Linked DNA regions of Homo sapiens. The protein of the gene in region 5 purifies or fractionates together with the protein of the main gene of each other region. This does not show direct contact. Each region holds a gene or a part of one and is shown on either strand. Other genes may lie near its edges. The genes, in order: ZNF579, LSM14B, RSPRY1, ZNF430, CLEC3A, LBR and ATF6.

Region 1 (4,604 bases), on a different chromosome or scaffold from region 5:
AGGCGCTGAGGAAGACAGGGGGAGCCGGCGGGGACTGGGGTGGGGTCCCCGGAGAGGGCGGCTCTTCCTTAATGTTTGCGAGGGGCAGCGGGAGCCCTTCTTCCTCCTGCTCGGCCTTCAGGGGCGGCGGGGGCGGTGGCGGCGACGTCGGGGCCTGGGCCTGCAGTGCCTGCAGCGCGGCGGCCCTCTCCAGCTCTGCGCGGTGGCAGCGCTGGTGGCGCAGGAGGCTGTAGGCGCGCGAGAAGCGGCGCGGGCAGCGGGGGCACGGGTGCGGGGCTGGGCCCCCCGCGTGCACCTGTGCGTGGCGCGCCAGGTCGGCCAGGCGCTTGAACTCCCGCTGGCAGCGCACGCACTGGAAGGGGCGCGCTCCCGAGTGGGTCACCCCGTGCTGCCGCAGGTGCGCCCGGCGCCTGAAACCTTTGCCGCACTCTGGGCACCAGAAGCGGGGCTCCCCGGCGGGGGGCCGAGCCGGGGCGGCGTCGCCTCCGTTCTGCCCTTCTCCCCCTTCCGAGGCACCCCCGCACTCCGCCCCCTCGCCCCCCTCCGGCCCCTTGGCTGAGTTCCGTGCACCCGAGGCCTTGTCGTCCTTCTTGCCCGCCGCGGGCAGCGGGGCCAGCAGGCTGAGGGGGCCGTGGACGCGGCGGTGCTGGCGGAGGTAGGAGGCGAGGCGGAAGGCCAGGCCGCAGTCTGGGCACACGAAAGGGCGGTCGGTGGAGTGGACCAGCCGGTGGCGCGACAGGGACCAGGGCCTGGCGAAGGCCTTGAGGCAGATGGAGCACTGGTGTCGCTTGGGGCGTGGCGGGGGCCCCCCTTCCCCTTCCTGTTCGCCCTCGGGGCGCAGACACGGGTGCGCCTTGAGCTCGCCCTTGGTGGCGAAGGCTTCGCGGCAGCGCAGACACAGCAGCGTCCAGTCTGCCTGGAGCAGGACCTGTTTCTCCTCCTGCCGCCCGGCCGCCAGCGCCAGCTCGGCCCTCAGCTCTGCTGCCCCGGCCTCGGCCTCCTCCGACTCCGACTCCCGGGGCTCCGCGGCGCTGGTGGGCGCAGCCAGCGTGGAAGGCTCCCCCGCAGGCCACGTCTCAGGCCACGCTGCGACCGCCTCCTCCTCCGTGGCCCCTGCTGCAGCGGTGGTGGGCGGCTCCGAGCCCTCGTCCTGCGGGCCCCAGCTGGGTTCGGCCGTCTCCTTGGCCACCCTCTCGATGGCCAGCTCGACCTCGCCGCCCGCGTGCTCCTGAGCCAGGTGGCGCCTGAGCTGGGCCGGTTCTGGGAAGGTGCGGGGGCAGGCGGCGCAGCGCAGCGGGGGCTGGGGCCCGTGGCCGCGCAGGTGGCGGGAAAGGTGGGCCGGCCGGCGGAAGGCCTTGGGGCACAGCGGGCAGGCGTGGGGCCGGAGCCCCGAGTGGCTCAGCCGGTGCCGGGAGAGGTAGTAGGGGAAACGGAAGAGGCGGCCGCAGGTGGGGCAGGGCAGGGGCGCCCTAGGGGCTCCAGCGCCCCCCCTGCCACGGCCACGGCCCCGACCACGGCCTCGGCCACGGCCCCGGCCTCGGCCACGGTGAGGTGGGCTGCCCTGGGCGGGTGGAGGAGGCTGCGGATCCATGCCTGTGGGGAGAGAGGGGAGAGATGGGAAGCGGGGCAGAGATAAAAAGAGGTGCGTGGGGTGTGGCAGAAAGAGAAGCAGAGACAGTCAGAGATGGAGAGGCAGAGAGGGTCAGGTATTTAGCCAGGAGAGAGATATGAGACAGAGACAAAGATGAGAGACACCGAGGGGAGGCCAGAGATGGAGAGACAGGAGGAGAGAGATCAGAGACAGAGCGACAGAGCAGGGAATAGAGACAGGAGAAGGCAGAGATGGGAGACACAGAGAAGTGGGGATGGACAGACAGAGACCAGGAGTCGCAGAAAGACAGGATGGTGAAAGGCAGAGCAGAGAAGAGACAGAGGAGAGTGAGGAACACCCAGCAGAGAGACAGAGACACAGAGAAGAGGAAACAAAGAGACTTGGAGAACCAGAGGCAGAGATAGTGCAAGAGCAGAGATCAGAAGAGCAGTGGCGGGTTGGGGGCCGGAGAGACAGGGAGACAGAGACACAGAGGGAGTGAACTGGGCAGAGGCACGGAGGGGGACAAAGTCAGCGAACCGCTTCTGCTCCAGGTCCCCCGGCCAGGCTGAACGTTTTGGGAGGGGCTGGGACACAGCCCATGGGGCCTGAGTGGAGGGGGTGGGATTTGAAGCCGGTAGGCCCCGGAAATAGAGTGTGTTCTCAGATGCCAGGGGCTGGGAGAGGTCGGGGAGTAGGAGGGTTCAGACTTCTGGTCTGAGTTGGGAGGGGGCTAGGGGCCCAGACTCTTGGGACTGATGGGGATGGGAGCTGGGGATTGAGACTCCTGGGTCCAGGTCATGACGGATTGGGGAATCTGGACTCTGGTATGGAGGAGGTGTGGATTCCTGGGTCCCGGTGGAGGAGGGGCTGGGGAGGGGGCTGGGCTCCCAGGACAAGGGGGAGGCGGGGGCTGGGGACCCAGCTGCCGGGAATCCCCAGGGAGGAGGCGACTGAGGGCCGGACCCCTGGACTCGGGAGGGAGGCTGGTGGGGGTCGGGGGTCCCAGGTCCTAGAGGGGGGCCGATCTCCTCCGGGCCAAGCCTGCAGCTCCCCGAAGGCATGATCAGCAGAATTGGGGCCGGGTCGAGGCCTTGAGGATTTCTCAGCCCTGGGCCTGGGGCTTGGTCCTGGTCGCTGGGGCTGGGTTCTTACCTCGCCTCCTTGGCTCCTTTCTTCCTTCCCCACGGCCGGCCAAACGCGGACGGTGGTGGCGGGGAGGGAGGGGGGCCTGAGCGTGGTGGGGGGTGGAGGAGGAGGCTGGGCTCGGTGTCACTGCCTAAGCCTTCCCCCCGGAAACCTGGCCTTTCCTCGGAGCCTGAAAGAGGAAAGACTGGCTGGGAAGCCGGAAGCGGGAGGACGGGGGACCTGGAGAGGGGAGGGAAGGCAGCTTGCACTACAGGGTCCTGTGAGGGGAGGGGGCTGGGGGCCTGTCCCCCGGGCTCCCAGAGGGCGGAGGGTGCTGAGGGCCTGGAACACTGGGTCCAGCTACTCCCGGCTCCCCAACATGCACACACACATATTCATTCATTCCTTCAACAAATACACATTTATCAGGTCCTGTCTGTGCCAGGCACTGTGTCAGGCCAGGGGAGTGGCCGGGGGAGGAAGATGAATGAATCAGTGACAGAGGCTTCAGGAAGTACTGGCACTCTGGATCAGAACCTGGCTCCAGCCTTCCCTTGGCTGTCTGGGTGAAGGATTCTCCCACTTCGAGCCTCGGTTTCCCCCTTTGTGAAAGCCCCTGCATATACTCATTCAACCCTAAGCGACCAATATTTACTGAATATCTACTACGGGCCAGCCTGCATATATTTGTCTACATATACGCATATTCACTGGGACCTTAGCAGCCAATGTTTACTGAGCACCTACTATGGGCTGGTGCTGTCCTTGGTGCTGGAGTCACAGTGGCAAAAACCGGAGCTCACTGTCTGATGGGGAAGGCAGATAGATACGGATCAATCACGCTGGAGTGCATGTGGGGGAACGTGTGCTCCGAGGCAGGGAACTGCTATGGGAATGCAGAGAACAGAAGGCACTGAGCTGAGCTCACACTGGGAGGAGGTGATTCCTGAGGTCTTCCTGGAGGCAGCAATGTTTCAGCTGAAATTGGCAGAATGAAACCAACCTGGCGACATCTCAGAAACCTATTCTGGAGCAGAAAAGGCATTTTGCAGGAGTATACCCACAGCTTGACGCTGTTTGTTTAAGGTTACATTCCTGCCAAACAGTGCTAATGAGAGTGCGAGCAAACAGGTCCTTTCATACACGGCTGGGGCAAGTAGAACCTGGAACATTCTTACCGAGCCAGCAATTCCAGGAATTTATTCTTCAGAGGCATCTACTCGGAACTGCACAAAATAATGTCTGCACCAGGTTAATCATTGCAGTACTGCACATCACTGCAAACAGCTGAAACCAATCTAAACACCCATCTGTAGGAGAGCTGAGTAATAAATCATGACTGATCCACCCAGTGGAATACTAGGTGTCCATAGAAAAGAACAAAGAAGCTCACCGTGTGCATATATGGTAAGTCTCCAAGTGATAACCTGTAGAAGAGAAAAATGGAAGGTCAAGTACAGCCTGCAGCCTGTTCTGGGTTTGTGTGTGTTCTGGGATTGTGTCCAGATGAACTGGAACAAGAGAGAAGAAACTGAAACTGGCAACATAGTCTAACTTCCAGGACAGAAATTTACTACACTCTATCCTTGTTTTTTTGTTTGTTTGTTTTTTTTTGTTTTGTTTTGTTTTCTTTTGAGATGAGATCTCCTTCTGTTGCCCAGGCTGGCTGGAGGAAGTGCAGTGGTGTGATCTCGGCTCACTGCAGCCTCGACCTCCCGGGCTCAAGCAATCCTCCCACCTCAGCCTCCTGAGTAGGTGGGGCTACAGGAGTGTGCCACCATGTCTGGCTAATTTTTGTATGTTTTGTAGAGATGGGGTCTCCCTATGTTGCCCAGGCTGGGCTTGAACTCCTGGGCTCAAGCAATCCACCTGCCTCGGCCTCCCA
Region 2 (3,972 bases), on a different chromosome or scaffold from region 5:
TCCACCCATCAGCCGCCCAGGCCAAAAGACTTAGGAGTCATTCTGGACTCTTCTCTTGTCATGTTGGCCAATTCTGTTAGCGCCACCTTCAAGACACATTTAGACTCTACTCCTTCCCTCTGTCACCACCACTGCCTGGTTCCAAGCCACCTGTGCTGCAGCACTGGCCCCTAACTGGCCAGTCAGCAGCCACACTTGCCCACCGTCCAACCACTCTCACCAAGGACGCCGTAAAACATCAGACCGCACCACGCTTCAGCACAAAACCCTCTGATGGCTTCCCGCGGCACTTGGAACAAAAGCCAAAGTCACTGCCATGCCCTACAAAACCCTACAGGAACCCATCCCCCAGACTCGGCCTGTCTGGAAGCACTTCCCGCACTCATCTGCGCAGCCTGCTCTGCCTGTGAGAACTGATCATCCACTTCCCATCGAGTTACAGCCCCATCCCATCGCCCTCACTGCCTGGCCTTCACGACATGCTGTTCTATTTTTCCCCTGGCAGAACATGAACCTGAAGAGGTGGCGCTCTCCAGCCTGCCTTCTGAGGCCCCCTCAACGCCCCGCGGCATGTCTGGCGCTCAATCTGCAGGACAAATGGGCCCAAGTTTCCAAGCCAGGCCCACACTGTAGATGCCACCCACTCCCTAGGGTGCTTCGCGGGACTTCTGACCAGCTGTTAGGTGTGAAAAATAAAACACACCACATGGTCCCTGGCCTCAAACAATGAAGTGAAGGAAAGCCAGTGTGAGCACGTTCTAGCCATACCTCAGGCTGCTAAGCAAGGACCTCAGGCTGCCAGGCCAGCGGGACCAGCAAGCAGAGCACCGTGAGGTATGCTGAATGTGGACACGGGTCTGCCGGGGGGGGCGGTGCAGCCCAGCCTTTGTGGGGACAGGGCAGCAAAGCCAAGAGGAAACAGGCTCGACCTCAGCCAACTCCTCGGGTCGGGATCCCCAAGAGGCTTCCCACACGCAACCTGCTGGGACTCCGGCACCCATCATGCAGAAACGCAAGCAGGACCCTAGAACAGCTACCCTGAGCCTCAGAGTCCAGCTCTGCCCTCAGGTTGAGAGCCCTCAGCCCTGTCCTTTCTAGATTGGAGGACTGTCCTCCCCTCATTCATTCAGCCTCTCACCTGGTCTTGAGTTCAGAAGAGATGTTGTCGAAGAACGACTTGGATTTGTCATAGTAGCAGTTGGGCCCCAGAAGGTCTTCCTCAGCGGGCGCTTCGGCACTCTGGGTCACCACAGCCAGGTCCTTCTCTTCCCCCTTCTCAGCCTTGTCATCTACAAAAAGAAGCAGAACACGTGGAGATGGAGGAGGGGCAGAGCGCACAGCCTTTTAGCAGGGTGGTCCCTCCGGGCTCACTCGGAAGCCACCCTCAAGCTAAGACATCAACTATGCCTTGTGCAAAGCAGAAATCTCTTCTTCTACCTTCTAAGTACAGGTCTCGTTCTGCCGTCTGGGCTGTGCAGTCTGCACCTTATCCCACCCATTTTCACACCTCCCAGCACCTCACTTCATTAATTCCTCACTGCCGGTCACCATCCGCCTGGCATCCCCGGTTCCTCTAGGCATCTCTTCCTTTTCCTTGAGACAGAGTCTTGCTCTATCGCCCGGCTGGAGTGCAGTGGCGCAATCTTGGCTCACTCCCACTGCAACCTCCACCTCCTGGGTTCAAACGATTCTCCTGTCTCAGTCTCCCGAGTAGCTGGGATTACAGGCGCCCACCACCACGCCTGGCTAATTTTTGGATTTTTAGTACAGATGGGGTTTCATTGTGTTGGCCAGGCTGGTGTTGAACTCCTGACCTCAGGTGATCCACCCACCTCAGCCTCCCAAAGTGCTGAGATTACAGGCGTGAACCACCACACCCGGCCAGGCATCTCCTCCTAACACTCTCTAGGGGTACTCCTGTGCAGAGAATAATTTTCATATAATGAGCCAAACCTTTAAAATTCAGTTTCTTCTTAAATTCTTTGTCAAGCTCCTCTCGGTTGAACTGGGCATTTGCACTCTCGAAATCAAAGTCACCCTCAAATTTGATTGTGTTTTCCTTAACGTTAGTTGGACGGTTTTGCCCTCTGGAGCGATTCCTTGTTCGCCTGTTTCCTGTGAGGACAAAGGACAGCCCTGGCTGAAGTAGGTCACCAACCCAGTGATCTCAAACACCTCACAAGGAATTTCCAGGCACACCCCCAAGGCCACAGAAGGAACAGAGCACACAAGCAGCGACTTCACACCAGCACCCCTGAAACCGTCAACCAGAGAAGCAGGCAGGAGGGCAAGCAGAGCTCAGCCTGATCACTCGTGGTCCCCAGAAATCAAGTGGCAACAGGTGTTACCTGATCGCCTCCTCTGAGGTCTTCTGTTCTCGTCATTCACCTGCCCTTGAGCTTGCACAGCTGCCGGCTGGACTACATCTACGGCGCAAAAGGGAAGAGTAAGGCAAAGCTCCTATAGCAGCCGGAAGCCAGAACCCAGCTGTGGAAGCAGGCCCCACCACCATGGGGCACGCGGCCAGGGCGGCACCGCAGGAGGCTGCTGCACAGGCCTGCCCTGCAAAAGCACATGGGGCTTAGGATGGGGGAGTAGTATTTTTTTAATTAAAAAAAAAAAAATAGCCCAGGAAGTAGTGTGCCACTTTTAGAACATCAAGCAAACTCCAGGAAATGATGTGTTCAAGTACCGCTGGCCGTCTTGCTGCTCGGCTGGGCCTGACGACCGTTGAGCTGCGTCCCTGTGGTGCCCTTGCCAGGTAACAGCTTTTTAGCATTCAGGTTGTCAGCAGAACCAGTCTGCACAGCCTGCTCCACCATGGGGCTCTTGCCGACTGGGATGGATGGAAAACCAGCTCCTGAATTGAGGAGGGGAGGAGGGTTTAAAAACAGAGAGAAAAGAAGCAAGCCTTATATCTCCAGGCATTTCTCTTCTGCTGGCATGTCAGGAAGGAAAGGAGGGCAACTGCCTAGATGTTCTATCAAATCCAGGCAAAGCACCCCCAGACTGGGCCATTCCCTCTGAGGCTAGCCCAGGCAGCAAAAGAAGGCCAAGAGTCACTGGGCAGCACCAAGGCCAGTTCATCTTTGGACTCCCCACTCCCAAAGCCCTGAGCTTCCCAAGTTAGGGAACCTCAAGGACAGGAAAAACACCGTGCCTACAAACAGGCACCTCCCCAGAAGTGTGGAAACAGCTTTCTTAAAACCACACAAGCTCCAATCCCAAAGGAGCTCAGCAGCCCCAAGATCCTGATGAATTCAGGATCTGAGAATTTGTTTCATTCTGGTCCACACTGGAGAAGAACCAGCCCAGCCTGGGATTTTCTAGAAAATGCAGTGAACAAATTCTGAAGTTAAATTCTACAACACTGTCATTTCCACTTAAGGCACAATAAAACTAAAAATGATGAAGCAGGAGCTGACTTCCGAGACGTAGCAGCCTACACTTCTCTCAAGGGCAAAGGCTCATCATGAAGACACAAAGGGCTCCTAGGTAGCCTTTGGCAAGGGGCTATGCCTATGAAACTGCAGTCCGAGGCCCACGCACAGGGGATGAACCCTCAGAAACCAGGCCCTCTGAATCAGGAGGAAAATGGGAAGCACCACCCACCTCTCTCCATCTCCTCCCTTTCCAAGGTTCCAGGACCTGTAGGGACTCTAAACAGGACAATGTGGGACTGGGTGTAAGTGAACAGAGATCTGAAACAGAAAAGGCACCCTAACCACAGGGTAATTATTATTAGACGAACAGCCCAATACACATGAAGACTGGGCATCTCATCTTACTGCTTTTACGGAATAGAAATGAAAAAAAAAATTGACTGTAGAAAAATTCCTTGTAACCAGATCAAGAGAAGCTCTCAAAGGGCAGGTTGGAACGACTCTGCATAGAGGTCTGGAAAGTGTCCTCTGGCGGGAATGCACCCGGGCCACTTTCTCACTGATTGTCTCACTCAGCATGTCCGGGAGA
Region 3 (3,500 bases), about 21 Mb from region 5:
CTTGGCTTCTCAAAGTGTTGGGATTATACGTGTAAGCCACTGTGCCCAGCCTAGGTTAAAATTTTTTAAATGTTAAAAATAGAAGCATTTAAGGCTGGGCGCGGTGGTTCACGCCTGTAATCCTAGCACTTTGGGAGGCTGAGGTGGGTGGATCACCTGAGGTCAGGAGTTCGAGACCAGCCTGAACAGCATGGTGAAACCCCGTCTCTACTAAAATACCCCGTCTCTACTAAAAATCAGCCGGGAGTGGTGGCAGGCACCTGTAATCCCAGTACTCAGGAGGCTGAGGCACGAGAATTGTTTGAACCTGGGAGGCAATGGTTGCAGTGAGCTGAGATTGTGCTACTGCACTCCAGCCTGGGCGACAAAGCGAAACTCTGTCTCAAAAAAAAAAAAAGAAGCATTTAGGTTGGGCGCAGTGGCTCACACTTGTAATCTCAACACTTTGGGAGGCCAAAGCAGGCAGATTGTTTGAGTCCAGGAGTTCAAGACCAGCCTGGCAACATGGTGAAACCCTGTTTCTACAAAAAAATCCAAAAGTTAACAGGGTAACGTGGTGCATGCCTATAGTCCCAGCTGCTCAGGAGGCTGAGGTGGGAGGATCACTTGCAATCTGGAGGTCGAGATTGCAGTGAGACAAGATGGCGTTATTGCACTCCAGCCTGGTTAAAAAAAGAAGTATTTGTATCTCAGGTGGCGATCTTTATTCAGAAGCTAGAAGAGAATGTTGAGTTGCTTCGCTGATTTTCTTATCTTTCTCTAAGCAATTTCCTCATAACAAAAGTTTTAAGAATGTTTTTTATTAAGAGGAAAAACTGGGCTGAATGTACTGGCTCATGCCTGTGATCCCTGCACTTTGGGAGACCAAGGCAGGAGGATCAGTTAAGCTCAGGAGTTTGATACCAGCCTGAACAACATAGTGAGACCTTGTCTCTGTTAAAAAAAAAAAAAAAAAAGAAAGCCAGGCACGGTGGCTCATGCCTGTAATCCCAACACTTTGGGAGGCCAAGGCAGACAGATCACTTGAGGTCAGGAGTTCAAGACCAGCCTGGCCAACATGGTGAAACCTCATCTCTACTAAAAATACAAAAATTAGCCAGCACGATGGCGTGCACCTGTAATCCCAGCTACTTAGGAGGCTGAGGCAGGAGAATCACTTGAACTCGGAAGGTGGAGGCTGCAGTGAGCTGAGATTGCACCACTGCACTTCAGCCTGGGCGACAGAGTGAGACTCCATCTCAACAACAACAACAAAAAAAAGTTAAAACTGAAAGCACTTTTGAATCTTACTCAAATGTATTAATGATTAGTGTAACATTGGTTATCCTTTACATAGAACAAAAGCATCGAACTTTCATTGCTTTCCCATGTGTTTTACAGAGTCCTTTTTTTTTTTCTTTTTTTCTTCTTTTGGATTCTGGCATCTTTCATTTTTAAGATGGAGTCTTGCTATGTTGCCCAGACTGGTCTCAAACTCCTGGGCTCAAGCATCCTCCCACCTTGGCCTCCCAAAGTGCTGGGATTACAGGCATGAGCCACTGTGCCCAGCCTCAATTCTGGCATTTTCATTCATCTGTTTAAGCCCAGTGCAGAAAAACATTGTGGACGGAAGGGGAAAGTCTTTAGCGTAGTCACCAATGAATTGACCTTTGCCTAGGCTTATAAGAGCTGCCTGTTTCAATTTGCCTTCAACTCTGTTGGGGCAGGGTGCAGTGGTTCATGCCTATAATCCCAAAACTTTTGGGGGCTGAAGCAGGAGGATCACTTAAGGCCAGGAGTTCAAGACCAGCCTGGGCAACATAATGAGATTCCCATCTCTACAGAAAATTAAAATTATCTGGGCACTGTGACATGTGCCGGTAGTCCCAGCTACGAGGGAGGCTGAAGTGGGAGGATCACTTGAGCCCAGGAGGTAAAGGCTACAGTGAGCCATGATCACTTCACTGCACAGCAGCCTGGGAAACAGAGCAAGAGCAAAAAGAAAAGAAGAAAACTCTGCTGGGATTTGTTTTTGCTTAGTAAAACTTTTTTTAAAGTAACTTTTTACTTCAACATCACCAGCCTTTAATGTTTTCATAATGGCATCTGAGTGGGTTTAATCTGTTTAGTGATTCAAGAATATGTAGCATATATTTGATACAACTTAAGCATTCTGAATGAAGTGGAATCTAGTAAGTCATGTAAGGAGACTTTCAGGTTGATCAGATATTTCCCATCAATGATATCATTAGGGTACATTGCATAATTTTTATATGGTCATTCTGAGTTTATTTAACACCTGGTTATAGCTCCCCCCACCCCCCTGAGACGGAGCCTTGCTCTGTCGTCCAGGCTGGAGTGCAGTGGCACGATCTCGGCTCACTGCAACCTCTACCTCCCAGGTTCAAGTGATTCTCCTGCCTAAGCCTCCTGAGTAGCTGGGATTACAGGCGCGCACCACCACACCTGGCTAATTTTTGTATTCTTAGTAGAGATGGGGTTTCACCATGTTGGCCAGGCTGGTGTCGAACTCTTGACCTTGTGGTCCGCCCGCCTCGGCCTCCCAAAGTGCTGGTTATAGCTTTTGTCTCAAAAAAAAAATGAGCCTGGGAAAACAACCTGTGTAGTATATGGGTCAAACCCACTTGTACTTTTTTGTTTTAGGATGCACTCCAGAAATTGACTGAAATTCTCAATTTAAATGGAGAAGTAGCTTGCCAGGACTCAAGCCATCCTGCCAAACACAGGAACACATCTGCAGTCCTAGGCTGCTTGGCCGAGAAACTAGCAGGTAACTTTGGGACACTCCACAGTGGAAGATCTTAAGTTGTTTGACATTAAAGGGAAATTTGTACTGTATGTCTTTGATCAAACTGCTATACCAGAAAGAAATCTCTTAAAAATGATATTGAGAGACATAGACTAACTGGAAGAAAATTACTGAAAGGCTACAGAGGTGAATGCAATTTAATTTAGCTTTGTGGATTTTCAGGGGAAATTTTAAAAGAAAAAAGTTGTGCTTATTTGCTTTAAGAATAAGGAGCGAGGAAAAGAAAAAAGGGAGAAAAGCTAAATTCAGCATAACAAAGATATGTATGTGTGTATACAATATATAATTTGCATATATACACACTTTATAAAGTTTAGCTCGATTATGAAGACATACAAGGTAGAGGGAGAGGAAAAGGAACTTCTGGTTGGAGCAGTTCCTGAGAAGCAGGTATTTAATTTGTTTATGAATGTTACCCATTTTAAGAAAGTTAACAGCAAAGTACAGGGGCATAGCTCAGCTACTTACATCACGTAATGTGGAAGAAACAATGGATTAGAAATCAGAACATGTGGCTACTGGTTTGGACTCTCCCATGTGCTTGCCAAGTGCCCTGGAGTTAGTTGCTTAATTCTGTGGGCTCACTTGCTTAACTGTGAAATGGAGCTAGTACTATTTTCTACCTCAGAGCAGGAGGCTTTAATAAGATAATGTGCATGAAAGAGTTCTACCAAAACAATTTGATTGTTAC
Region 4 (3,972 bases), on a different chromosome or scaffold from region 5:
CATGAATGCGTGTTTCAAACAAGTTCCCTGTCAATGCTGATGTTGTTCCCCCTGGGCTCATTAGCATTAGTTAGAGAAGCAGGTACAGCACAGAGTCCCTTACACTTAGCACTCTTGTCACAACACAAATACTTCTGGTACAAATAAAACCAATCTCCATCTTAAATTTTTATATTCTTCGCTGGCTCTTTAAAGTTTACAGAACAAACAGAAGGCGGCAATGTCTGAATAAATCTGCCTTTGGAAAATAACATGTACACATATACAAATGCAATGTTTATTAAGCAGGTACTATGTGCTCAAGGATATGTTACAGAGCACTGTGCTGGGAATAACACATTTTGTGATTTAATCCTAATAACACCCTGGAAGTTGATACTAAGTGTTCAATAATTCCCAGGACTTAGATAAAGGGTTCAGCATTTTTATTTCTCCCTCTGTTTCTCTGTCATTGATTTTGTTTTAAAGGTATAGAATAAAAGTTAAATACAGGCAGATGAGAAGAACATAGAAAAAGTTTAATGTAGTTTAGAGAAATTTTTATTGTGTATACATTTACTTGTTTGTGGCTTGTGGAGCAACTGCTAGATTGGCAGAAACAGAAAACAAGGTGCTAAATGGAATGTTTCTGTAAGCACTGGTTTTAATACAAATTCAAAAAATAAGATCCTAAAATAAATAGTTTATTTCTGTCATTTATCTGTTTTTGGGTTTCAGAAAATTGTGAGCACCAGCTCTAGAAAAGCAGCAGGACTCACCAGACAAAACTCCAGTCTTTTTTTTTTTAGATGGAGTCTCGCTCTGTCACCAGGCTGGAGTGCAGTGGCACAATCTTGGCTCAATGCAACCTCCGCCTCCCGGGTTCAAGCGATTCTCCTGCCCCAGCCTCCTGAGCAGCTGGGATTACAGGCATGTGCCACCACGCCCGGCTAATTTTTGTATTTTTAGTAGAGACGGGGTTTCACCATGTTAGTCAGGCTGGTCTCAAACTCTCGACCTCATGATCTGTCTGCCTCGGCCTCCCAAAGTGTTGGGATTACAGGTGTGAGCCACCACACCCAGCCAAAACTCTGATTTTTATAAATCAGTTTTGTGAGGTAAGGCTCCAGAGCGGGGCCAGACATAAATAAGGCCTCCAAAAAACGTGAATCTGAACAGAATTTGGGCAGGGAAAGGACCCTATGTAGAATTATGTTCTCTCTGCCACCAAGGTATTTCCAGTTCTGTTTTTCCTAAGCTTACATAAGAGAATCTTAAATCCCAGAGCTTATGTAACTTTAATCTATTTTTGCCACTGCCCTGTCAATTTTATAACATATACTAATAAGCAATTTAAACAAATTTATTAAAGTTCTTTAGAATAATTATACTAGAAGATAAATATATATTCTTAGCAAAGTAAAGGAAACACAAATAATAACAAATCTTCACTCCATAAATATCTCCTCAGCTGATGGTATCAGAAGTAACAATATAAAACAGTGGCCCCAATTTTTTTTGGACACATCTATTCATTGTACCAACCATATAATGCTTAATTCACCCATGTATCCAGTTGTTAGTCTAGACATGTTCCTGGATAGTAAGGATCATGACTGCTTCATCTGTTTTTTGAATGGCCATATAAAATGAAAACAATTACTTTATCTGTTTGAGTCACCAGACCTCCTATTGCTTTCATCCAAGTATCAGGAAACTTGAGAAACTCTCATCTGGGTACCAACCAAAGTTATCTCTTGTATAAGGGGAGAAAAAAACACAGAATTGCCAGGCATGGTGGCTCACACCTGTGATCCCAGCATTTTGGGAGGCTGAGGTGGGCGGATCACAAGGTCAGGAGTTCAAGACCAGCCTGTGCAATATGGTGAAACCCTGTCTTTATTAAAAATGCAAAAATTAGCCAGGCATGGTGGCAAGTGCCTGTATTCCCAGCTATTTGGGAGGCTGAGGCAGAAGAGTCACTTGAACCCGGGAGGCGGAGGTTGCAGTGAGCCGAGATCGCGCCACTGCACTCCAGCCTGGGCGATAGAGCAATACTCCGTCTAAAAAAAGAAAAAAAACCCTAAAAAAACCACACACACACAGAATGACTCATTTCTCTTACACCAAGCCAGAAGCAGAATTAACCACTCTTGTCAGCCTGACACAATTCTGCCCTGGACATCCTCAAATGTCTCAAAGACGTCTAGGTGATTGTGAGAGGGTTCTTAGTGACCCTGGGCTGATGGCCCAATGATAATCCAGGCTGGAGAGATTCAGGCTGATTCTAAATAGAAAATGGCCTGGTGGAGCTCCAGAACCTAATCACTTGTCCCAATTTGCTAGCTTTTGGGTAAGGAGAAAGACAAGAATACTCTACTCCAGTATCACATTTTACAGGTAGGTATAGTTGTGGTCATGGCTATGGATACATTATGACTTTGATATCTCACTCTTAAAATGCTGATTCTGTCATCAGATTCTATTTATATCTGGAGCCTCTCACATAACTGTGGCAAATCACTGAACAAGATCTGAAAAGCTTAAAGAACCACACTGTCAAAGGGGGCTTTAAGATGTCTATGTTGACAACTCACAATGGAGAAAATGCCTCCTGTTGGTTTTCTGTACATTCTCAACCTAAAGTCTGGCCGTGTCCTGTAAATCCCAGGAAGAGGCCAGACCTTATGTGCAGATTCTAGGTAGGATCAACCACACTCTGCATTCTTGGGTGTTACAGCAAGTGGAGTACAATCAAAGGAGAGATCCCCTCATAGAGGCTGCTCTAGCTCATTCTACGTGATATGACTACCTAAAAGGAAAAAGCTGAGGCAACATGAATATAAGAGTTTATTTGGGCCAAGCTTGAGAATAGTAACCTGGGAGCAAAGACACATTTTCCAGAGACTGAACAAATAAGAAACTGAATCCCTGAATAGACCAATAACAAGCTCCAAAATTGAATTAGTAAGAAATAGCCTACTAGCCAAAAAAAAGCAAAGAACCAGACAAATTCCTAGCTGAACTCTACCAGATGTACAAAAAAGAGCTAGTACCACTTCTACTAAAAATACTTCAAAATATTGAAAAGAAAGGACTCCTTTTCAACTCATTATATATAAGAATAGCATCATTCTGATATCAAAACCTGGCAGAGATTAAAAAAAAAAGAAAACTTCAAGCCAATATCCTTGATGAACATTGATGAAAATACCATCAACAAAATACTGGGAAACTGAATTCAGAAGAACATCAAAAAGCTAATCCACTATAATCAAGTAGGCTGCATCTCTGGGAGGCAAGTTGGTTCCATATACAATCAATAAATGTTATTCATCACATAAAGAGAACTAATAACAAATACCAAGATTATCTCAATAGATGCTAAAAATACTTTCAATATAATTTAACATTTTTCATGTTTAAAACCCTTAACAAACTAGGCATTGAAGGTATATACTTCAAAACAATGAGACATCAACGACAAACTTACAGCCAACACACTGAATGGACACAAGCTGGAAGCATTCCTCCTTGAAAACTGGCACAAGATAAGGATGCCTTCTCTCAAACATCCTATTCAACATAAAATTGGAAATCCTGGCCAGAGCAATCAGAGAAGAGATGAAAATAAAAGGCATCTGCCGGGCATGGGGGCTCACGCCTGTAATCCCAGCACTTTGGGAGGCTGAGGTGAGCAGATCACGAGGTCAAGAGATCGAGACCATCCTGGCCAACATGGTGAAACCCCGTCTCTCCTAAAAATACAAAACTTAGCTTGGCATGGTGGCATGTGCCTGTAGTCCCAGCTACTCAGGAGGCTGAGGCAGGAGAATCGCTTCAACCTGGGAGGCGGAGGTTGCAGTGAGCCGAGATCACACCACTGCACTCCAGCCTGGCGAGAGCAAGACTCTGTCTCAAAAAAAAAAAAAAAAAAAAAAAGAAAAGAAAAGAAAAAAGGCATCCAAACAGGAAGAAAGGAAGTCTAACTAT
Region 5 (4,721 bases):
CACTCATTCCTTGATTCTTTCTGTATTGTCTCAAAGAAAAAACAAAGGCAAAATGAACTTGGTCCTTCAGACCTTCCAAATCTGCAACCACTGCCCTCCATTTGCACCTGGTCAGCCAAATAAGCATGTGGAATGCAGGAAGGCCTTTCCCTGGGTCTAAATTCCTCCCTCTCGGCTATTCCTGTAATGCAAGTCCATTGCTTTTGATGCAAAAGCCTATCAGGTCCCGAAAACTTGCCCTTAAAGCCTATGGTTAAAGGTAGGAATAATTGAGTTTCTCATTACATTAATTTTATTTTTATTTTTTATTTGAGAAGGAGTCTGGCTCCGTCGCCCAGGCTGGAGTGCTGTGACAAAATCCCGGCTCACTGCAACTTCTGCCTTGTGAGTTCAAGCGATTCTCCTGCCTCAGCCTCCAGAGTAGCTGGGACTACAGACTCCTGCCACCACGCCCAACTAATCTTTTTGCGTTTTTTAGTAGAGACAGGGTTTCCTCATGTTGGCCAGGCTGGTCTCGAACTCCTGACCTCAAGTGATCCACACACCTCAGCGTCCCAAAGTGCCGGGATTACAGGCGTGAGCCACCACGCCCGGCGAGTCTCTCACTAGGTTTCTGTGCTATTACATCATGCACTTGAAAGTGTTGTTTAATGTGTTCAAGGAAAAATGATTGGTGAGGACCTGAAAAAATAGCTATTGATCTATTACATTAATTCTTATTCTAATGGAAATAATTCACTTTTTAAAATTTTCTTTTCACTGTAAGGTACATTTTCCCAAGAAAGTAATTTGCCCGGGCTGGAGGGCAGTGATCTCGAACTCCTGGGGCTCAGGTGATTCTCACACCTCAACCTCCCAGGTAGCTGGCATTACAAATGTGTGCCACCATGCCTGATGAATTTTTTTATTTTTTTGTAGAGATGGTGTTTCGCCATGTTGCCCGTGCTCTTCTCGAACTCCTGACCTCAAGGGATCCACCCACTTCGGCCTCCCACTGGGACTACAGGTGTGAGCCACCACATGCAGCCCCAAGGAAGTAATTCTTGATGAGTCTACAAAATCCTAATGGAGGAAAGCCCTATATTTTATCATCGAGTATCTATTTCCGCAATCTCCATAAATCCCACTGAGAAAACTACTTCCAAGCTACACTTGAGCTGCGCAGACACATGAGTATGAGTAGACACACTGGCTTGAATGGTGCTGTGGCACCACACACACACACACACGCAGTAACTTTCCTTTTTCTCCAATTTTTTTTTTGCCCTGAAAACTAAATTGAATCCATTTTCCAGAACATTTAGTGAATTTCAGAGTTCCAAATCAAAGAATTTTTCACAAAGACCCCAATCTTCTCAGAGTTTAAATTTAAAAAAAGAAAGCAGGCTAAACCTGTAGTTAAGTTTGACACACTCCAAAAAGGCAAATCACTAGGAAATGCAGCAGAAATTAAATAAATAGAAAGCCTAACATGAGGCACAAGAACAAGAGGCCACCTTATGCTGTGGCCAGCAGAGGCATTCAAACATTCCGTCAGCAGGATTCCAGCCAACCTCCGAAGCTCACTTTTATAAGCCAGCCCCAGGCATCCCAGAGCAAGATGTAGCTGTGTAGTCTCCTTCCATAGCTGCTCTAAGGGGGCTGGCAACATGGCTCAGCAGGCTTGCCCCAGAGCCATGGCAAAGAATGGACTTGTAATTTGCATCCTGGTGATCACCTTACTCCTGGACCAGACCACCAGCCACACATCCAGATTAAAAGCCAGGAAGCACAGCAAACGTCGAGTGAGAGGTAATGGGGCTTCTCAATCAAGCAAAATTCTAGGCTTAGACAGTGTGGGGAGGTGCTGGACAATGTTAATTTTCAAACTCCTCCAGGAGACTATCTTCGGTGATGGCACCATGCCATCATCCCTATATGGCATTTCAGGGGATTAAGTGAACTTGTAATGCTCTGGGATAGTTTATTTTAAAGAAACCAGGCTGCTGGGTTTTAAAAAAAAACAACAGGGAAAAAATTTGATAGTAAAAGAATTCTGTGTTGTATATTTTTTGTTAGGTGGGCTTAAATAGAATGTGCTTCAGAGGAAGCTCAAGTGGATTTCTGAAAATCTGGTGTTATTAATATGGGGCAAGAAGAATGTATTAACTGAGCACACTGTTTCACTAGTAGATATTGAGTAACTCAATTCAGTTATATTTTAAGATAACTATAATCTTATTCAATGTGTAGCAGAGGATAGAGATTTTGGTAATGGTGACTTCCTGTTTTGTCATTAGTTATCATTAGCTGTATTTCCATATCCTTGGCAGCATAAGGACAACCTATACCATATATTTAAACTTTTTCATGTCAGAGACATTGAATCTCTCCAACTTAAAAAAGTCAATATGCAAAGTCATCTAGTATTTGAAGGCATTGTGATGCAAAACTGAATCTCCCAGGAACCTCAAATTTTGAGTGACTTGAATTGGGTTAACAGGTTAAAGAAATTGAAAAGAACAATGATGATAGCGAGGTGTTTGCAATACGTTGAAACCTAAGCAAAAGAAAAAAACAAGACAGAGGGTCATGTTTTATCACATCCTCTGCATCATTTTCATTTCAGGATATTTCAGATTATGACTATTTCCTTATTTTCACTCCATTAGTAACAACACACACATACACAAATTTCAGCAAGGTTACAGTCTATTTCACATGACAGATGGCTGGTGGGTAAAAAGGGGTCTTGTGCTTTAAGGATTATAAAGTACCATTTTTTCAGGGACATTTATTTACAAAATTTAGGTCTGGTGCAAGGTTTCTTTTTTTTTTTTTTTTCTGAGACAGAGTCTCGCTCTGTCGCCCAGGCTGGAGGGCAGTGACACAATCTTGGCTCACTACAAGCTCCACCTCCTGGGTTCACGCCATTCTCCTGCCTCAGCCTCCCAAGTAGCTAGGACTACAGGCGCCTGCCACCACGCTCGACTAATTTTTTGTATTTTTAGTAGAGACGAGGTTTCGCCGTGTTAGCCAGGATGGTCTCGATCTCCTGACCTCGTGATTCGTCAGCCTCGGCCTCCCAAAGTGCTGGAATTACAGGCGTGAGCCACCGCGCCCGGCTAGTGCAAGGTTTCTTAAGTGGAATCTTTTTTCCTTAAGAAATACTGTACTTCTTTCGGTGAAAGATTAAAATATTTCTCATGAGTAGATGAAACATATTGCTGAAGATGGTATCGAAAGGAGAGGGGAGAGAGAAGATACTGGGTGACATGGTACATTTCTGTAGCCAGCGTTTCTTCACTGCTGGATGGAGTGGCACTCCTCGTGAGAGTGGCGATCACCCAGTAGGAATGTGTGAAGAGGGTCTGAACATGACTGAGTGTGCATGTGGGTGCTGTGTGGGTGTTTCTGAAGTAATCGCAGCTTAGGTCACATCCAGGTTTTCCAGGGGCCTCCCTCCCCTTCCTCCTCCCACTCTCTTCTCTCTCCCTACCTTCTTTCCCACTTCTTTACCCCCTTCTTCCCCACTGCCTCTGTCATAACCACATGTGCATGCACATGCTTTTATTTAAAAACAAAACAAAACAAAACTGACTAGGTACACACCTCTTAAATGTCATTCCCCCAGTATAGTTTTTGCTACTTTTTGCCATTAGGTCCTAGAAAGTAGATTCTACAGTAGGTGAAGCAATAAACCTAAACCGATCAAGCAATTATATCCCCACCCATCCATATACTTTTAAAATAGTTTAAGTACCTTGAAATATAATAATACCAGTGTTAAAGAGATCAAAAGTGAAAGCCATCTTCTCTCTCCCAATCCTCACCACAAAATTATCCACTATTAACTATCAGGTAATACTATTCCCAGAAGTTTTGTGTTTTGTTTTTTGTAGGATTGTTTGTTTTGAGACAGAGTCTCACTCTGCCACCCAGGCTGGAGTGCAGTGGTGTGATCTCGGCTCACTGCAACCTCTACCCACCAGGTTCAAACAATTCTAGTACCTCAGCCTCTCAAGTAGCTGGGACTACAGGTGCTCGCCACCATGCCCAGCTGATATTTGTACATACATCTTTTTTAGTATAGATGGGGTTTCACCATGTTGGCCAGGCTAGTCTCAAACTCCTGACCTCAGGTGATGGGATTGCAGGCATGAGCCATCATACCCAGCCTATTCCCAGAGTTTTTAAAATGCACAATTAAAATACATATTTTTAACAAAATAAGAATTGGCTATGCAGAATGTTTGGCTAGGCAAATAAATTTATTTCATCTATTAAACCTTGGATAGTTACCAGTGTAAGCAATACTTTATTCATTTTAACAGCTGCATAATATTCCATTGTTTGGATGGGTCATCACTTAATCTGATCTCTCCCAATACATCTCTTTTTGATTCAATAGCCCCAAGTAACTGCTTTGCACACATACTGCTCCCCATGTTAGGATGTTATGAGACATTTCCAGAAGTAAAATTGCAGGTTAATTATACTTTCTAATTGTCCCTCCAAATGATAACACCAATCCATCTTCCCATCTTCTGTGTATGGGAGTGCCCATTCCTATGTATTTTGACAGTCCAACATCATATAATGGTTTTACTGGCCATGTCTTCTGGGAATGACTTTTGTGTTTCTACACTGTGTCTACCTCTGGAGAGCAACAGTAAAATGAAAGGGAGCCTTCTGGGGGACTCAAAATAGCAACCGAAGAATTTAGCTTCAAACACAAGATC
Region 6 (3,972 bases), on a different chromosome or scaffold from region 5:
TAAAAGCCTCTAAAAGACAGAGGCTGTGTGTTTTCACCTTTGCCACCCCAGTACCTAGCACAGTGCCCGCCATGGAGAGAAGTGTTCAAAATATGCTTGCTGAAGGAATAAGATCACCAACTCTTTTTGTTTCAATTCCACATGGACCAATCTAATTTCTGTTCATAATCTGGCATTTCATGTGCATTTTCCACAGAAGAAATTAAGCTGCCTGGCAACATGGTGAACTGACAGCTTCGCTTCTCATGTAAATTAATAAAAGTGCATTACTCCCTGGTGATTTGGTTAGCATGAGCCAGATCGCCTCTGGCCCAGGATACGGGCAGGCCAGACTCTAGAATACGGAACCACCACCAAGGTCAACACTCTGAAGGTCTGGCCTAAGGGAATCTCTAAACTACCCAGAACCTCAGTACAGACCACTGATGTAGAAATATTAGCCAGTATAAGCTCTGTTGGAGAATCAAAGTTCTAGGTTAAAGAAAAAGAGTGGTACCTCTAAATAGCATTTTTTTCCAGAAAAGAAAGCAAATAGGCCATGGAACAGAAAAACAGATGTCACATGAAACAGAAAAACCAATCTCACAAAATCTAGCTCCTTAGGCTTATACTCTTTAGTTAACCAGAGTACTTTATTCTCTTTAAAAAAAAAAATTGACATGTAATAATCGTACATATTTATGGGGTACACAGTGATGTTGCAATACATGTAATATATAGTAATCCAATCAAGGTAATTAGCATATCCATCATCTCAAACACATTCTTTCTTTGTGTTAGGAATATTCAATATCCTTCTAGCTATTTGAAACTATGTATCACTGTTAACTATAGTCATCCTACAGTGGTATAGAATACTAGAACTTAGAACTTACTCCTCCTATCGAGTGGTAATTTTGTATCCTTTAACAAACCTCTCCCTATCCTTCCCTTCCCCCTACCCTTCCCACCTTCCCATATCCTCTGTTCTACTTTATACTTCTATGACATCAACTTTTTTAGCGCCCACATATAAGTGAGGACACACGGTGTTTTAACTTTCTGTCCCCAAGAGTGTCTTATTCTTCTCTCTCAAGGCCTGTGATCTGATTCCTGGTCCAAAAGAGGATAAAGGTGACAAATTGGTGGGAGCAGATAAAAGCAGGTGTGGTGAGTGGCAGTGAGAGGGCAAAGGGTAAGCACCCAATGCCGGGTAGGGGGAGGACCTTAGCCCCACCAGCTCCTGAGCCCCAAGGCTTTCACAGGACGGCTCAGAGGAAGGGTCATGCATATTTAAACAGGTAGTCTCAGTTTTCTTAAGGTATAGCACATTCTTGAATACAGAGGGATTTCTATCAAGTGACCTGACAGAAGTTATTAAGCATCTGCTAATTGCCCAGTGGCATGCCAGAATGCTGAAGAAATCATAAAATACAATCTTTCCTCAAGAAGCTTATTATCATCTGGCTGAGATACTGAGAACAGACAGAAAACAATTTCCTAACTCTAGTTCTCTACCCCTGGGGCTATGTTAATATTGCATTAAGCGTTTTGCCTTAAGATGCAAAAAATTTTCTTTTAACACAAGTCAATGTTTGGCTAAATCTATAGAAAATATCAACTTCTAAGCCAATTAAAAAGTGACAACCACAACATGGCAGAAAGCTAGTAATAGAAGAAACCAGAAGAAATAATCACTGATCAGTGGAAAGCTACTAGAAAGGAAGGTTTAAAGAAGCCTCTGAGGTGAGCACAACTGTGAAATATCATTTGATTTGCAAACTGTAACCTATATGCTCTTTTGGCGATTCATTCTATAACAGCAAACAAAGCTACACTGGTAACAGTAAGTGCATTTACAAAACAGTTGTTTTTTAATTTCAAAAACATGTTTAATTTTGGGTCGACGTGGAATTTTTAAAGTCAATTTGAAGTGTTATCACCACCTTCACAGCTTCCCAAGCTCTGAGCCAGGGTCTGTGAAGTGGTAGGAGCGCAACAGGAACCCGTAATTAGCGGATAGCACTAATCCCACCGCTTGTAATTGAGGTTTACCTCAAAGTGGCCCTAATCTTCCTAAATAACAAGGAGATCATCGAAACACCAATATCAAACTTGCGAAGTTGTTCTGACTAAATGTTCTCTGCAATTTTGCATAGAAGGCCAAAATTAAAGACCAGCCAGCAGGGGTGGGGGAGATACATAGTATTGATGACCAAATAATATAATTTTTTTTAATGTTCCAGGCTCAAAGAGAAAAGGTCTTCTCTCAAAATGTCAGCAGATTGTCTCAACAGACTGTCACTAAAACTTGTTTTGGAACATTATGATGTACAGCTGCCAGATTTGTTTTTAATATGGAAAGAAAACTAGAGTTGGAATTTGGAGATAATTACAAAGATAACAGTAAATACGATAAAATACTTGTAAAATAAGCCTGAGGAAGACAAAATTTTTAAAAGGAATATGCTGGCTGAGACAGAGAAAACAAACAAAACATTTACCAGTCTTCAACTAGTAGAAAGACTAATCAATGTATGAAAAAAGACACAAGATGGAAACTTAGCCTTATTTCAACTGGTTTCCTCAATGCATCTTGATTTCTGATTTTACATTCATCTAATTAGAGCTAGTCTTTGTATTTTAAAACATTAACAATAAAACATCTCCCCCATTATTTAAAAACTAGGTGACTCTTGACAGTCCAAGAAACACCATTCTAATTTAGTAATAATCCATCCATTTTCATGTGATACCATAATTACCACCACCCACAAAAACAAAACCAAGATCCACCAATCTTAAATATTTAGAATATTACTTTTAAACACAAGAACAGCTGATAAACACTGAAGCACTCCCAAATGCCTAGAAACTTCCCACCTGTCAGTGCTCCCTCGTCAGCTTCACATGGATGGCCTCGTCCTCCTCTCAAGCAGCCTTGGAGGCAGGCCATGCTCCCCTCACTTTGTGTGCAAGAAGCCGAGGCTCTGACAGGTCACTCACCCACTCAAAGCCATCTGACTCCAAGGCCTCGGCTCTTAAAATTAATTACCTCATTCCAGAGAGCATCCACCACATAGAGAAGCTGGAAACTATTAACTAAAATCATGGCCAAGGATGGAACAGCGCGGTCCTGTATTTTCATTTCAGCCAAAAGCATCACCAAGTTAATAACCACCTGAAACAAAAGGGGAAAGTATATAGCCTCAAAGCACCTCCCCAGAGACCTTAGCACTACAAAGGCATGAGTGAGCTTCACAGCTGAGACACCTGGCAGACGCCACCGTAACTCCTACCCGCCACCAGGAATAAGACATCTCAGCACCATGGGCCCCTGGACCCAATGCACTGAGAAGGACACAGCTATCATTTCTGTGTTCCTGTCACAGTGGGTAACTTTACCGCAATCAAAGAGAACACTGGAATGACCCAAACTGAGGGACACTTACAAAATAACCAACCAGTACCTTCCAAAAAGTATCAAGGTCATGAGAGACAAGGAAAGCCTAAACAACTATTAGACTAGAGAAGACTAAGAAGGAATAACAACTAAATGTATTGTGGAGTCCTGTCGAGGTTCCTGGAACAGAAAAAGGACAACAGCGGAAAAACTGGTGAACTCGACTGAGGCCTGTGGACTTGGTAACCAATGCTGTCACTATGTTAATCTGCTGTTCTTCATCACTACACTACGGTTTCCTCCAAGGTTAATGTTGTGAGAAACAGAATGAAGGGTGGAAGGGAACTCTTTGCTCTCTATCTGCAACTCCAAGCCTAAAACTAGGTAAAATTTAAAAAGGAGGAAAATGCATTTTTTCTTACATTAATTCATCCACACTATCACTTTCCTACATAAATATAAACTGATATAATAAAAATAAAGCAAAGAAAAGTTATTTAATTTGTCATAACCTGTAACAGGGCATCTTAAACCTCTGGAAAATACTTACAAGAAAGTATTTTGATAGATTTATGGAAAGCCATAATTAT
Region 7 (3,972 bases), on a different chromosome or scaffold from region 5:
CTCTAAATAATTTAAATAAAGTGATTAACTCAGAACAGCCTGTGAGGGATGTGCTTTCCTTTTTCTTTTTAACTTAGGTAATGAAATTTAGAGCAAGAGTCTTCAAACATTTTCTGTAAAGGTTCAGATAGTAAATATTTTAGGCTTTGTGATTACATGGTCACTGTTGCAACTACTCAAGTCTGCTGTGATAGTGCAGGAGCAGCCAGAGACAGCATAAACAAGTGAGCATGGCTGTGTTTCTATAAAGCTTTATAGACACTGAAATTTGAATTTCACATAATTATTTTAAATAATAAGCCTACTTTTTTAGTATAATTATAGATTTACACAATAATTGAGCAGATAGTACAAAGAGTCCACATACTTCCCCTTCATCCCCAGCTTCTCCTATTGGTAACATCTTGCATTAGTGTGGTACATTGGTTACAATTGATGAGCCAGTATTGATACATTATTATTAACTAAGCCCATCATTTAAAGTTCACTCTGTTGTACATTCTATGGCAGGGATCCCCAGCCTTTTGGCACCAGGGACTGGTTTCATGAAAGACAATTTTTCCACAGGAGGTGGGGACAGGGAGGCACAGGAAATGTTTTCAGGATGATTCAAGTGCATTACATTTATTGTGCACTTTATTTGTATTGTTATTACACTGTAATATATAATGAAATAATTATATAACTCAACATAATACAGAATTAGTGGGAGCCCTGAGCTTGTTTTCCTGCAACTAGATGGTCTCATCTGGGGGTGATGGGAGACAGTGATTAGATCATCAGGCGTTAGATTCTCATAAGGAGCGTGCACTCTAGATCCCTCACATGTGCAGTTCACAGTAGGGTTCACACTCCTATGAGAATCTAATGCTGCTGCTGATCTGACAGGTCGTGGAGCTCAGGCGGTAATGCAAGTGATGGGGAGTGGCTGTAAATACAGATGAAGCTTCGCTCACTCACCCACCTGCTGCTCACCTCCTGCTGTGTGGCCTGGTTCCCAACAGGGTTGGGAACCACTGTTCTATGGGTTTTGACAAAGGTATAATGACATGTATCCATAATTACAGTATTATATAGAATAGTTTCACTGCCCTAAAAAAGCCCTATGCTCTACCTATTTTTTCCTCCTTCCTCTTCCCTACCTCTGGTCAGGTAACCACTGATCTTTTCACTGTCTCCATGGTTTTGCCTTTTGCAGAATGTCATATAGTTGGAATCATACAGTATGTAGCATTTTTGAATTGGCTTCTTTCACTTAGCAATATGCACTTAAGGTCCCTCCATGTCTTTTCATGGCTTGATAGCTCATTTCTTCTTAGCACTAAATAGTATTACAAAAATACTATTTACAGTGTTACAAAAAATAGTATGTATGTTCTATAGCCTATTAGTCTGCCTAGGCTGCCATAAGACAACACCACAGACTGCGTGGTTTAAACAATGGAAATTTATTTTCTCCCAGTTCTGGAGGTTAGAGTTCAAGATCAAGATGGCCGCACCTTCAGGTTCTGGTTAGGGCTCTCTTCCTGGCTTGCATGCACATGGCTGCCTTCTTCTTGTGTCCTCACATGGCACTGAGAGAGAGAATCTTCTTCTTCTTATAAGGCCACAGTCCTATCAGATTAGTGCCCCACTTTAATGACCTCATTTAACTTTAATTACCTCCTAAAGACTGTATCTCTCGATATAGTAATATTTGGGGTTAGGGCTTCAACATACGAATTTTGGAGGACACAGTTTAGGCCATAAATTCACAGTTTGCTTATCCACTTACCTATTGAAGCACATCTTGGTTGCTTCCAACTTTTGGCAATTATATATAAAACTGCTGAAAACATTTGTGTGCAGGTTTTTGTGTGGACATGCATTTTCCAATTGTTTGGGTAAATATCAAGGAGCACAATTGCTGGATTGTGTGGTAAGAACATGTTTTTTGTTTGTTTTGTAAGAAATTGCCAAACTGTCTTCCAAAGTGGCTATACCATTTTGCATTCCCGCTAGCAATGAATGAGCATTTTTGATGCTCCACATCCTTGCTAACATTTGGTGTTGCCAGTACTTTGGATTTTAGTCATTCTAATAGGTGTGTAGTGGTATGTTTTAATTTGCAGTTTCCTGATGACATATGATGTTGAGCATCTTTTCATATGCTTATTTGCCGTCTGTATGTTTTACCCTCCTCTCTCCTTCTCTCTTCTCTTTTACTCTTGCTTGAATTTGTGCAAAAGCTGCTTTATTCTGCTTTCTTCTTTCTTCCCTCCTCCTCCTCCTTTCTCCTTTCTCCTTTTTCCTTCTCTTTATTCTTCTGTCAGCTGTACTTAAGATATGTGTATCAAGATCAGAAGCTTTCGTCTGCCACTGTGGTTTCGTTTATGTCTTCAGTCTCTTCTGTGAAGGTTCTCTTGGCTTTCTAGCACTAAATCAAAATCTGGTGCTCCTGGATGACACAACTTCCCGTAATGCCCCGGTGAACGGTTGCTAATTTTATTCTCAAAACCTTTTCACCATAGGGCCTCTGTTGGTGGGATAGGTGTCTCCATTGTCCTTCACTGCTATTCTCCTTTCCTCCTCCCTAAAAATATCTAAGTTGAAATCTCATTTTGTCACAATATCCCATCCTCTACCTCTCCTGATTCCTGGATCACTCTCTTTCACTTTTCTTTTTTTCTTTTAGAGATGGGGTCTTGTTCTCTTGCCCAGGTTGGAGCTGGAGTATGCGGTGGAGCAATCACAGCTCACTGCATCTTCAGACCCCTGGGGTCAAAGGATCCTCCTGCCTCAGCCTCCCGAGTAGCTGGGACTACAGACACATGCCACCATGCCTGGCTTCTTTTTGGCTTTTTGAAAACATTTTGCCACTAGCTTACTGTTACTTTCTTCACCATTACTTCCATCATGATTCTTGGATGATTTCAGTATCCTTAGAGAAGATCCTTCAGATACACTGACCTGTCATTTTCTGGACCTCCTCTTTATCACTGATCTTACCTTTTACCCAGTCTCAGCCATTTGCTTTCCTGATCATAAGCCTAAGTCTTGTCACTACCAATAACATCTCACTTTCAAACATCCTGCTCTGACTGCCTTCGCCTGTTTTACCAGCTTACTTCCTTTAGTATTCCAGTTTCAATAGTTGTTCAGTCCTTCTGAGATTTTGCCATGTTTCCAGTGTCTCTCATTCTCTTCAGTTCATCACGTCCCTCTTACCCAGTTTAAATACCATGGACAGTCATTGTCACTATTTCCTTCCTTTCACCTTTCATATTCATGTCTGTCTCTTTTCTGGTAGGTTTCTCTTGGATAAACCTATTAGTTAAATTCAGTTTTGCCCACTTCATGCCTGTCCTAGTATAGCTGAATCAGCTGAAGAAAACACTTCAACTGTCCTGACTGGTCTCAATTTAAGTGTTGCCAGACCAATCATATTTCCCTGGTCCTCTCACTGTCCCATTCTGATGATTGCTTTATAAAGTTTCTTCTATCTTCAAACCTCCAACATCTCTCCCATCCTTTGAATCAGAAGAGAACTTCTACAGTCTCCCACTACCTCATTTACCCACCTATCAACATGTTTGCTTTCTCTTTTGTTGGTGAGAATGAGTGGCTTCTTGCTCCTAGCTAGAGCCAGTCCTTCCATATGTGCTTTAGATTCTTCCTGTTTTGTTCAAGAATATTGCTCAAGCTATTCTTCCTCCTGTTTCCTGCATCAGCATTTCCCCTCTCTACTAGATCATCTCTGTCAGTAAATGAACATGTTGTTGTTTCTCCTAGAAGTACTGTTTCTATATCTAGATAGTACTCTAGCTAGAGTTAAAAAAAAAAAAAACAAAACCAACAAACTCAAAACTCTCTTCAGATGTTACTTCACCTCTTGCTGTTACTGCATTTCTCTACTGTATGTTACAGCAGAATTCCTTTTAAAAAATGTCCACGTTCACTGACTCTAGTTTTTTATTTCTCCTTGTCTCTTGA

What was found.
Region 1: the proteins of CLEC3A (region 5) and ZNF579 purify together in Homo sapiens (affinity purification with mass spectrometry; 2 studies listed by BioGRID and IntAct, with this or other methods). This does not show direct contact.
Region 2: the proteins of CLEC3A (region 5) and LSM14B purify together in Homo sapiens (affinity purification with mass spectrometry; 2 studies listed by BioGRID and IntAct, with this or other methods). This does not show direct contact.
Region 3: the proteins of CLEC3A (region 5) and RSPRY1 purify together in Homo sapiens (co-immunoprecipitation; 3 studies listed by BioGRID and IntAct, with this or other methods). This does not show direct contact.
Region 4: the proteins of CLEC3A (region 5) and ZNF430 purify together in Homo sapiens (affinity purification with mass spectrometry; 2 studies listed by BioGRID and IntAct, with this or other methods). This does not show direct contact.
Region 6: the proteins of CLEC3A (region 5) and LBR purify together in Homo sapiens (affinity purification with mass spectrometry; 2 studies listed by BioGRID and IntAct, with this or other methods). This does not show direct contact.
Region 7: the proteins of CLEC3A (region 5) and ATF6 purify together in Homo sapiens (affinity purification with mass spectrometry; 2 studies listed by BioGRID and IntAct, with this or other methods). This does not show direct contact.

Annotation. Positions count from the first base shown.
Region 1 is NC_000019.10:55,578,049-55,582,652, forward strand, and holds the start of ZNF579 (zinc finger protein 579), read right to left. Parts: upstream 2,801-4,604; 5' UTR 2,747-2,800; intron 2,095-2,746; exon of another isoform or gene 1,594-2,094; 5' UTR 1,592-1,593; coding exon 1-1,591. UniProt on the Homo sapiens protein: May be involved in transcriptional regulation.
Region 2 is NC_000020.11:62,128,673-62,132,644, reverse strand, and holds part of LSM14B (protein LSM14 homolog B), read right to left. Parts: intron 3,721-3,972; coding exon of another isoform or gene 3,613-3,720; intron 2,861-3,612; coding exon 2,693-2,860; intron 2,427-2,692; coding exon 2,349-2,426; intron 2,116-2,348; coding exon 1,954-2,115; intron 1,290-1,953; coding exon 1,139-1,289; intron 290-1,138; exon of another isoform or gene 1-289. UniProt on the Homo sapiens protein: mRNA-binding protein essential for female fertility, oocyte meiotic maturation and the assembly of MARDO (mitochondria-associated ribonucleoprotein domain), a membraneless compartment that stores maternal mRNAs in oocytes.
Region 3 is NC_000016.10:57,210,329-57,213,828, forward strand, and holds part of RSPRY1 (RING finger and SPRY domain-containing protein 1 isoform 1 precursor), read left to right. Parts: intron 1-2,643; coding exon 2,644-2,770; intron 2,771-3,500.
Region 4 is NC_000019.10:21,026,777-21,030,748, reverse strand, and holds part of ZNF430 (zinc finger protein 430), read right to left. Parts: intron 1-3,972. UniProt on the Homo sapiens protein: May be involved in transcriptional regulation.
Region 5 is NC_000016.10:78,020,951-78,025,671, forward strand, and holds the start of CLEC3A (C-type lectin domain family 3 member A precursor), read left to right. Parts: upstream 1-1,597; 5' UTR 1,598-1,676; coding exon 1,677-1,791; intron 1,792-4,721. UniProt on the Homo sapiens protein: Promotes cell adhesion to laminin-332 and fibronectin.
Region 6 is NC_000001.11:225,407,257-225,411,228, forward strand, and holds part of LBR (delta(14)-sterol reductase LBR), read right to left. Parts: intron 3,161-3,972; coding exon 3,035-3,160; intron 1-3,034. UniProt on the Homo sapiens protein: Catalyzes the reduction of the C14-unsaturated bond of lanosterol, as part of the metabolic pathway leading to cholesterol biosynthesis.
Region 7 is NC_000001.11:161,768,951-161,772,922, forward strand, and holds part of ATF6 (cyclic AMP-dependent transcription factor ATF-6 alpha), read left to right. Parts: intron 1-77; exon of another isoform or gene 78-3,665; intron 3,666-3,972.